3 linked regions of the Homo sapiens genome follow. The protein of the gene in region 2 purifies or fractionates together with the protein of the main gene of each other region. This does not show direct contact. Each region holds a gene or a part of one and is shown on either strand. Other genes may lie near its edges. The genes, in order: ALDH3A2, NCAPH2 and MIS18BP1.

Region 1 (3,655 bases), on a different chromosome or scaffold from region 2:
TTTTTGTTTGTTTGTTTTTTTGAGATGGAGTCTCGCTCTGTTGCCCAGGCTGGAGTGCAGTGGCATGATCTTGGCTCACTGCAGCCTCCGCCTCCCAGGTTCAAGCGATTCTTCTGCCTCAGCCTCCCAAGTAGCTGGGACTACATGTGCATGCCACAATGCCCAGCTAATTTTTTTTTTTGTATTTTTTGTGGAGATGAGTTTTCACCATGTTGGCCAGGCTGGTCTCAAGATTCTGACCTCGGGTGATCTACCTGCCTCGGCCTCCCAAAGTGCTGGGATTATAGGTGTGAGCCACCATGCTTGGCCAACTCCATGGTTAAATGGAAAGAAAAGAAAAGAAAAAAGAAAAGAAAAGAAGAAAAGGAGGGAGGGAGGGAAGGAAACTACAGATAATATTTAATTATTTATTTATTTTATTCTTATTTTTTTGAGACAGAGTCTCGCTCTGTTGCCCAAGCTGGAGGTACAGTGGTGCACTCTCTGCTCACTGCAACCTCCGCCTCCAGGGTTCAAGTGATTCTACTGCCTCAGCCTCCTAAGTAGCTGGGATTACAGGTGGTGCCGCCACACCCAGCTAATTTTTTGTATTTTTAGTAGAGACGGGGTTTCACCATGTTAGCCAGGTGCCTTGGCCTCCCCAAGTGCTGGGATTACAGGTGTGTGCAACCGCACCCAGCCTACAGATGATATTTATATAATAATGAAATAGGGAAAGCTTTTCTAAGCCTACTTTCCAAATCGGAAACCAAAAAACAAAAAGCCACACAGGCTTAGGCCAGATGTGGTGGCTCATGCCTGTAATCCCAGCACTTTGGGAGGCTAAGGCAGGTGGATCACCTGAGATCAGGAGTTGAGGACCAGCCTGGCCAACATGGTGAGACCCCATCTCTACTAAAACTACAAAAATTAGGTAGGAGTGGTGTCGGGTGCCTGTAATCCCAGCTACTTGGGAGGTTGGGGCAGGAGAATTGCTTGAAGCCAGGAGTCAGAGGTTGCAATGAACCGAGGTCGCGCCATTGCACTCCACCCTGGGTGACAGAGTGAGACTCTGTCTCTAAATAAATAAACGCTTCAAATCATAGATAAAATTAAAAGAAAAATTAAAATCTGGAAAGGGATATGTATTACAGATAGGACTGAGGATTTTCTTACTTATAAAAAAGGCTATTTATATACCAATAATAAGGAAGATGTGAACACAGCAAAAATATCAAAGGACATAAATAGAAAATTCATGAGAGTGGTAAAAAAAATTCAAACTCACTAATAATCAAAGGAGTACAAATTGAAATGAGACCCTTTTCTGTCTAGAAATTTAATAATGGAATAATCCAGAATTGGGGATATAAGGAAGTAAACACTCATATACTGATCATGGGAATATAAAGTGGCAGAAATCTGCAAAGACACTTGAAATATCTATCAAAAGTCTTAAAGAGAAGCATTTCTAAAGAAAAACCTAGGCTGGGTGCGATGGCTCACACCTGTAATCCCAGCACTTTGGGAGGCCAAGGCAAGTGGATCTCTTGAGCCCAGGAGTTTGAGACCAGGCTGGCTAACATGGCAAAACCGTGTCTCTACTAAAAATACAAAAATTAGCTGGGCCTGGTGGCACACACCTGTAGTTCCAGCTACTTGGGAGGCTGAGCCAGGAGAATTGCTAGAACCCAGGAGTTGGAGGTTGCAATGAGCTGAGATCACACCACTGCACTCCAGCTTAGGTGACAGGGAGTCTCAGTCTCGATAAAAAGAAAAAAAAAAGAAAAATCTAAACTATATGCCAAAATATTAAAAAGTTTAACTGTTTAGACTTTTTGCCACTGTGTCTATATTACTTTGAGAATTAGAAGAAAAAAGCATTTTTTTCAATTTGGAAAATTGTATAAGCCCTTTTAACAGAGTAATTACACTTGTAGACATTTTTCCTAAAGAAATAATCAGAGATTGCATAAAGATACATTATATAAGAATCGTAATACCAAAAAAATTGAAATCACAAAAATCTAATACTGGGAATTGGTTACATAAATATGCCACATTCATATGATGGAAAAGTATGCAGCTACTAAAATTATGACATGCAAGAATATTGACATGGAAAAGTGTCACACTATTCTGTCACATACAGGGTACAGAACAATATATAGTATGATACCTTTTTGAATAGAATATTCAGATGACCGTGTATATGTGTGTGCATATGTGTGCAAGACATATACCAGTTATCTTTACATAGTGGGGTTATGGGTAATATAAATGTTTATTCTTTGGGCTCTTCTATCTTTTCCAAGTTTTCTTAAAAAGCCTGTATTCTTTTTACATTTGGGGGTCAAGGCTTGTTTTTATTTTTTATTTTTATTTTTTTACAGCATGGCCACTATAATAATGTATTATATGCCTGAAATTTGCTAAGAGAGTAAACCTGTTTTTTTCTTTTGCATCTTCTTTTTGTATTTTTAATTTTTGTGGGTATATAATAGGTTGCTTGTTTTATTTTATTATTTTTATTTATTTATTTATTTATTTATTTATTTATTTATTTTGAGATCGGAGTCTCGCTCTGTTTGCCAGGTTTGAGTGCAGTGGCGCAATCTCAGCTCACTGCAACCTCCACCTCCCTGGTTCAAGCAATTCTCCTGCCTCAGCCTCCCTGGTAGCTGGGACTACAGGCACGCACCACCACACCCAGCTAACATTTGTATTTTTAGTAGAGATGGGGTTTCACCATGTTGGCCAGGCTGGTCTGGAACTCCTGACCTCAAGTGATCCACCCACCTCGGCCTCCCAAAGTGCTGGGATTACAGGCATGAGCCACTGCGCCCAGCCTTGTTTTGTTTTAAATAAGATGGTATAGTCAATGATGCCACAGGCTATCTTGTCAAGTAGGACAGGGACTGAACCCAAGTCACTTAGATTTGCAATTAGAGGGCAGTGGAGACACCATATGGAACAATTACCGAGTTGATTACTGCACTAGCACAGTGGATGCCAGGATCCTATGTGGTGAGCTGAGGAACAGAGACAACAGAGTCCAATCTTTTAAGCATTTGGGCTACAAAACTATTACTTACTCCAGCCAAAATCCCAGGAGTCATCCTCTCTCATTCACCCCCTCCTCCAACATTCACTCCATCAGCCAATCCTGCTGCTTGATCCCAAAAATACCCCCTTCCCTTTCCACTATCTCCCCTGCTACCACCCTCTACAAGCCACCACCATTTCCAATTTGGATCTGGCAATACCTACCAATTGGCCTCTTCCCGCCTGTCCCTCACTCATGTCAGTCACTGTGCTGGGTGCTGGCAATATGTTTACCTCCTAGACAAGGACCTGTGGCTATATAGGTCAAGGCTCCTTGGTCATAGGACAAGGTTTCCTTAACCAGGAACAGATGGTCCTGCCAAACTGGGCCATCGCATCCCATGGAGCAACTGACTTAGGACGGTATTACAAAGGGAGAGGATAGAACAGGGCTTTAAGACAGTGGCTTTTCTGGTTGGGTTTTTGTTATGAGAATGTTTACATATCGGCTATTTTGTAATAGCTCTAGTAGAGAGTAGAAAAGCCCACCTAGCCTAGGTCCCAAAGGAGAAATAAAAAGCTGAGTCAGTCATCTCACATGTGGGAGAGGCAGGCAGGTCATGTTCTAAAG
Region 2 (3,655 bases):
GCATGGGGGAAACGCCCGCTGGTTCCATGGGGGACATGCCCTCTGGCTCCAACATGAAGGCCCCTCTGGGGTGGGGAACGCACGTGTTCATCCTGAAATCCTTCCGGCTGGCCAGGACCTCACCCTGACGGCTGTGCTGGCAAAAACACGCCTGCTGTAGAGACCCTTCCCAGGCAGGCCTCCCTCCCCGTCGCTGGGCTCAGATCCCTACCTGTACAGGGGATTGTTGTTCTTCTCCATTTCATCAGGGGCCACCAGGGCCATGGGCAGGAGGGGGATGATGAGGACCTCCTGCATGGAGGCCAAGGGTGGGTGAGCCAGGCACCCTTCCACTCCAGTGGAGAACAGGACCCACATGGGGCAATGACACCTTCCCACACCCCATCAGCTCAACACAGCCCCAGGGAAAGTGCTGACCTCACCCCAGCCTAAGAGGGGCCAGGCCAGGACTCACACTGGGCGTCTGATCATTCTTGAGATCCACGTTAGTCCGGGAGTCAGGGAAGTCATCCAGCGACAGGAACTGGAGGGAGACAGAGCTCGTGGGGGCGGAGCCCAGGCAAACACACAGTGGGCGGGGACCACATGCCAAAGAAACTCACCTCATTCTCTGCCTCCTGGGGGACCCCGGAGCTGGCAACCCCATTGGCCCTGTCCTCCTGCACCGAAGAGAGCTGCTTGGCCCGCCTGAGAGAGAAGCACATCCCGTGGGCATCCCAGGAGCTGCAGGGGCCTCCCTGGCCACATGCAGGGCAGCACAGTGAGTGGCTGCAGAACTCACCTCTTTCCAGAGATGAAATCAAGGGCCTGGTAGACGAGTGAGTAGAGGTATTCCACCTGGTGACCAGATGCAGGCAGTGAGGACCCAGAAAGGAGGGGCCCACCCCCAAGGCCTTCCCAGCTATCCATCGGTGCCCCCACGAGGCCTGGCCACCACCACCAAACCTCCAGTACAAGAAACCACCAATTTTGGTTCCAAAAATAATTCTCAAATCAAACCAGGAATCTCATGAGAATTACTTTACCAGCTGAGGCCACCCACATCTCTCCTCTGCCCTCTATGGTCCACGCAGCCGCGAGCGTGGCCTTCTCAACGTGTGACCCTGACAGCACTGTGGTTCCCACAGTGTGCCTCATCACACGGTCCTTGGTGGTGAGGCCCCTCGTGCTTGGCACCCACTCTGCCGACGGCCTGCAGCCCTGCTGCTCCTCCGCCCGTGTGCTCCCGCCAGCATCACCCCAGCCCCTCCTCCTGTCCTGGCCCTGCCCTGTCCCAGCTCCTGCCGCCACGGGGCCTGCAGGACAGAGCCCGTCACTCACTTCCTGTCCTTCTCCTCCACAGAACAGAGGCCCCACCGTGAGGGTGGTGGTTGTGGACTTTCTAGGTGCTGACAATGAGGCACCCACAAGTAGGGGACGGGGAAGGGGAAGGTGGGTGCAGGTGGCACCCTGGGCTGTGTCCAAGTGCACACAGCAGGTGTCATTCCCCCAAGACAACAGAGCCCAACAGCACAAAAGACCCTCCCTGCCTGGCTGTGCGATTTTAAATTAAAAATTGTTCTTGGTGTTGGAAGGTGCTGAGGAATTGGCTGAGACCTGAGGAGAGAGGGAGGTAGGTCACAGACGGGACGACCACTGCACCTGCCCCAGAAGGAGAGCCGACTGTGGTCCCACTGGCCACCAAAATGCCAAGACCAGCGTCAAGCAGGGCCCACCTTCTTACTGTAGACGCAGGCAGAGCCCTGGATCAACAACGCTGCCTCAATGAAGTTCATTGTGGTCTTGCCTTCGTCAAAAGAAATGCAGATCTGATCCAGCTGCAAGAAACAACACAAAGACAGGGGGAATCCAAGGCCCAGTCTGCACTCGCTTCTTCCAGGGCAGCCCCACCCATCTTTGGTCTCTGCCCAGCACCTCCCGAGACGGGCAGCTCTAGCTATGCTGTGGGCTCACCGGTTGTCCCTGGTATTTCGGGGCAGAGACAGGTCTCTGTGTTTCCCCCTACTTCCTATAACAAAAACCTGTTTTGGAAGTGGAAGGCCCCCAGGGCACACTGTCTACAAACAACCAGGGCAGCACAGCGGCTCCCTCCACAAGGCGCCAGAGGCTGACAGACTCCAGCAGGAAGATCCCCGACACAGAGAAGAAAAGGGAACCTCAGGGGTAGGAAAGGCAGAGATAAAATGCTGAGGTCTCCATCCTCTGAGCAGAGAACTCAGGAAACAGTTACAGGTGAGTCGCCATCCTTCCTCTGCTCCCCTCAGCCTCCCGGAGCCCCAGCTCCTCTGTCACCCCTTAAACGTCAGTGCGCCAGGCGCTCCACCCCCCGCCATGCACATTCCTTCATCCCATGCCCAAGCTGCCAACCATAAGCCAATGAGCCCCAAACCCAACCCGACCAGCTCTCTCTCCTTAGCTCTGGGGCTGCATTCATAGCTGTCCACAGAGTACATTCAAATGTCCCCAAACACTTTACTTCCATACTTTACCCAACATCTTCCCCAACGCTGGCTCATCTCCTGTATTCCTTCTCAGCAAATGACACTTTAAAAAAAAAAAAAAAAAAAAGGCCGGGTGCGGTGGCTCACACCTGTAATCCCAGCACTTTGGGAGGCCGAGGCGGGCAGATCATGAGGTCAGGAGATCGAGACCATCCTGGCTAACACGGTGAAACCTCGTCTCTACTAAAAATACAAAAAATTAGCTGGGCGTGGTGGCGGGCGCCTGTAGTCCCAGCTACTCGGGAGGCTGAGGCAGGAGAATGGCATGAACCTGGGAGGCGGAGCTTGCAGTGAGCCGAGATCGCGCCACTGCACTCCAGCCTGGGCGACAGAGCGAGACTCCGTCTCAAAAAAAAAATGTTTTTGTAGAGACAGGGTTTCTCTATGTTGCCCAGGTTGGTCTCAAACTCCTGGCCTCCAGTGATCCTCCTGCCTCAGCCTCCCAAAGCACTGGGATCACAGGCATGCACCACCGTGCCCAGCCACAAACGACACTTTGAAGCCCCTAGGTGTCTTTCCAGCTCTTCAATTTTGCATTTCCATCTGCCTGGAACACCGACCCCCAGCTGTCCCCACGCAAACTCTTTTTCAGAGCCCCTCCATTCCTGGGGCCTCTGTGCCGCTCCCTTAGTGTGATCGTGTCCCTTAGTGAACTGTGTGAGCAGCATTAGTGTAATTCCAGCCTTCTGTTCAGTGCCTGACACTGGTGTCCAGTAAATATTTGATGAACACATGCATAGATAATGTCAAAGCTAAGCCTGAAAAACGCAGAGGCTCACCAGACAGATGAAGGGAACGTGAAGGCAGCTAGCAGAGACTGGACACGTCTCTTCAGGAAAATGAGCATGATCTAAACATGGCCAAAGCATGGCGCGTGCTGGGGAGAGGCAAGATTTTAGGCACCATGGTAGCACGAAGGAGTGGCAGAGGCTGGGAAGCCATCCCCAAGGGGAGTCACTTCCATTAGCTCTTGAAGGATAAAGGGTGTTTGTCAGATCTGGGAGGAAGGGAGAGGAAACAGCAGCATGGTCGTCTACGGAGTGTAAGGACCTCGGGGGTGTTCAGGACCTGAAGAGCTGGTCCAGAAAGAAGGGAACATGGAGGAGATGGCGGCCTGGAAGCTGAGCTGCAGAAGTGGCCCTTCTCTCCAGTGA
Region 3 (2,912 bases), on a different chromosome or scaffold from region 2:
TCTATATCCCTTAGAGAAAAGATTAGGACAGTCCTTTATCCCCTTGAATTACTTTTTAAATTTTTAATTTTCTGATTTTAATTGCAATAACTGATTATCATATATAAGTACTAGGATTCTGGAAAAAGTATTTCATCTCAAATTTCCTCTAAGTAGCTAATCTTCGAGAATGGTAACTTATGGGAACCCCCTTGATTCCCTTGCTTTATGACACTGAGCAAGTTACTTGAGCTTTCTAATACCATTTTATTCATGTGTGGTATGACAATGGGGATCATGATTATATTGATTTATGTTACCAAATGATTTTGAGGTCTAAATGATATAATGCAGTGTTTTACCTCATCTCAGAAAAAAATACATTTATATCACAGTCTGTGAGCATGAATTTGTATCTCAAAAATTTCTTAAAACAGTACTTACTCTAAGGGCTACTATATTTTCTGTTCTGTTACTTTTTATTTTTAAAAGATTTTTAAGGATTGCCAGCCATGGCCAATAGTTTGATAAGCATTGTAATGTGTGTGAGCATGTACTTCAAACTTGCCATTTACTTTACCATTTTAGCCAAGAATTTCAAGTACAGAGAATTAAAATTCTGCTGGTATAAAACATTGTACTGTTATAATAACAGACTGTAGGTAAAAGTAATACAGTAATTAGTATTCTGTATAGTAATTACTATACTGTAATAGTACAGTATAGTATTGTAATTATAATTACTATATATAATCATGATAAATTGTGTTTATATTTTAAGTTTACCAAACCAGTATATTCATTACTTAATTACTTAGCACATTTTGGCAACTTTTGGAGGCCCATAGACTATCCTTTAACTGCTATAGCATTAGTTTATAATAATTTCTTAGAGGAGTGTTTGCCAGCACTGGGAAACAACATTGAGTAAGTCATGGTTCTTGCCCTGGATAAACCCAAAAGAGAATTATGCATTTCACAGATAATTATAATGTGATTAAATGTTGTTATAGGCATATGTTCAAAGTAATCTGGGGATAAGCATGCTTAATTTTGTCTAGATTTGAGGTAGACTTCACCAGGAGGTACCATTTAGCTATTAATAGTAACTCTTTTATAGGTTGAAACTGATTTCTCAACTCCAACACCAAGAAGGAAAACCCCATTTAACACAGGTAATACACTTACAGCTTTCTTTTGTGGCTCAGTTCTATTATAAGGTAGGTTCTTTATTTAAATGGTATTAAAATTAATTGCTCTCAAGTGGACAGACTTAGCATTTTATTCCTTATAGTTGTTTTCAGTTTTATTGAAAGTACTTTTAGAAATTTATTATCTTTTTATTAAACTTCTCTTTACAGACTTAGGAGAAAACTCTGGTATTGGAAAACTTTTCACTAATGCTGTGGAATCTTTAGATGAAGAAGAGAAAGATTATTATTTTTCGAACTCTGATTCTGCATAGTAAAATGAGAAAATATGATTCCTGGGATTTTTACCATAAAGCAGACAGTGTTTGTATTTTCAACTGGAGTACATGTATTTTCTTTGTAAAGTAGCTTCCTATGAAAATGTGGACTTTTTTGAAGGTTTCATATGTTTGTGTTCAAAGTAAAATATCCTCATTGCTGCAGCTTACTAAAAATGTAAAGAAAATTGTTTTTGCTCGTGTAGATATCTGTAAATTTGTTTTTGCATATTAAAATATATATAGATAATTTTTTAATAAGCATCCAAGTCTGTTTACTTTAAGAAAACCATTTCCCAAACAGATTTTTTTTTATTTCAAGAAAATTTTGCTACCATTTAAGTAAGAGAAGGTGAGAAGGATGACAGAGGTTGTATTGGTAGCTATTGAATTCATGAAAACTTTTAAGTTAGCATTTGTTAGCAGTTATTATCCAAGCCAGAGTAGGATTTGTTACCAGTTGTTATCCAAACCTAATGTTTAAATTACACATTGTTGAAATTAAATTACACATTGTTGACATGCTTCTCTCCTGATTGTTTTTATTTTAAACTTGTGATAGGCATATCTATGAAACCTTTGTAAATTTAGTTTATTGCTTTACCATTATTTTACTAGGTAAAATTAGAGAACAGATTTTGTTCTCTAATTTTTAAGCCTTATTTACATATGCAGAAACAGCTTAAATATTTTGACTAGATTAGACAAACAGTTAATAGATCCACCATTAGGAATCAATATATTATGTCATAATAAACATCCTTTTTCTTTCACTGAAATTTCTTTTAGAAATAAACTTATTTTTGCTTGTTATGTTTTGAAACTTGACATAGGATATTTTCCCTCTGGCTACACATTCACCTACCCTTGTTCTCTATTTAGATTATTCAAATAAAGTTAGTTTGCTTTTATAGTATTTGTTTCTTGTTTTTTGTTTGTTACTAATTACTGGATGATAGAAATAAAAACAAATCATGACTGGTCCTGTTTAAGTTTCCTCAAAAAAAAAAAAAATGATTAATAACATTTTCTTGTTTCTTAAGTGTTTTAGTCAGAGCAGGCATGGTGTCATGTATCTGTAGTCTCAACTACCTGGGAGGCTGAGGAAGGAGGATAGCTTGAGCCCAGGAGTTCAAGGCTGAACTGTGCTATGATCATGCCTGCAACTGGCCACTGCACCCTAGCCTGGGTAACAGAGACTCCTTTTAAAATAAATAAATAAATAAAATAAAATAGTAATAATCAGCAGTTATATAATTATAGGACTTACGGAAACACTGTAAAAAGAACAGTGCAATTGGACTAAGATAATTCTTTCTTTAAACTACCATGATTATTTCTGCCATAAAGACCCTTGGTGGATATAGAATGGATCAAAAGAAAGGGTTATTTTGGAGTGGCCAAAAAAAATGCCGTTGCAGAACTTGAGTTGCCAATATTTGATCTAATGCTATACTGCTTGAAG

The links.
Region 1: the proteins of NCAPH2 (region 2) and ALDH3A2 purify together in Homo sapiens (affinity purification with mass spectrometry; 3 studies listed by BioGRID and IntAct, with this or other methods). This does not show direct contact.
Region 3: the proteins of NCAPH2 (region 2) and MIS18BP1 purify together in Homo sapiens (affinity purification with mass spectrometry; 2 studies listed by BioGRID and IntAct, with this or other methods). This does not show direct contact.

The regions. Positions count from the first base shown.
Region 1 is NC_000017.11:19,665,669-19,669,323, reverse strand, and holds part of ALDH3A2 (aldehyde dehydrogenase family 3 member A2), read right to left. Parts: intron 1-3,655.
Region 2 is NC_000022.11:50,514,609-50,518,263, reverse strand, and holds part of NCAPH2 (condensin-2 complex subunit H2), read right to left. Parts: intron 2,545-3,655; exon of another isoform or gene 2,517-2,544; coding exon of another isoform or gene 2,490-2,516; intron 1,818-2,489; coding exon 1,716-1,817; intron 838-1,715; coding exon 782-837; intron 688-781; coding exon 603-687; intron 524-602; coding exon 455-523; intron 292-454; coding exon 212-291; intron 137-211; exon of another isoform or gene 132-136; coding exon 1-131. UniProt on the Homo sapiens protein: Regulatory subunit of the condensin-2 complex, a complex that seems to provide chromosomes with an additional level of organization and rigidity and in establishing mitotic chromosome architecture.
Region 3 is NC_000014.9:45,202,641-45,205,552, reverse strand, and holds the end of MIS18BP1 (mis18-binding protein 1), read left to right. Parts: intron 1-1,099; coding exon 1,100-1,154; intron 1,155-1,340; coding exon 1,341-1,444; 3' UTR 1,445-2,363; downstream 2,364-2,912. UniProt on the Homo sapiens protein: Required for recruitment of CENPA to centromeres and normal chromosome segregation during mitosis.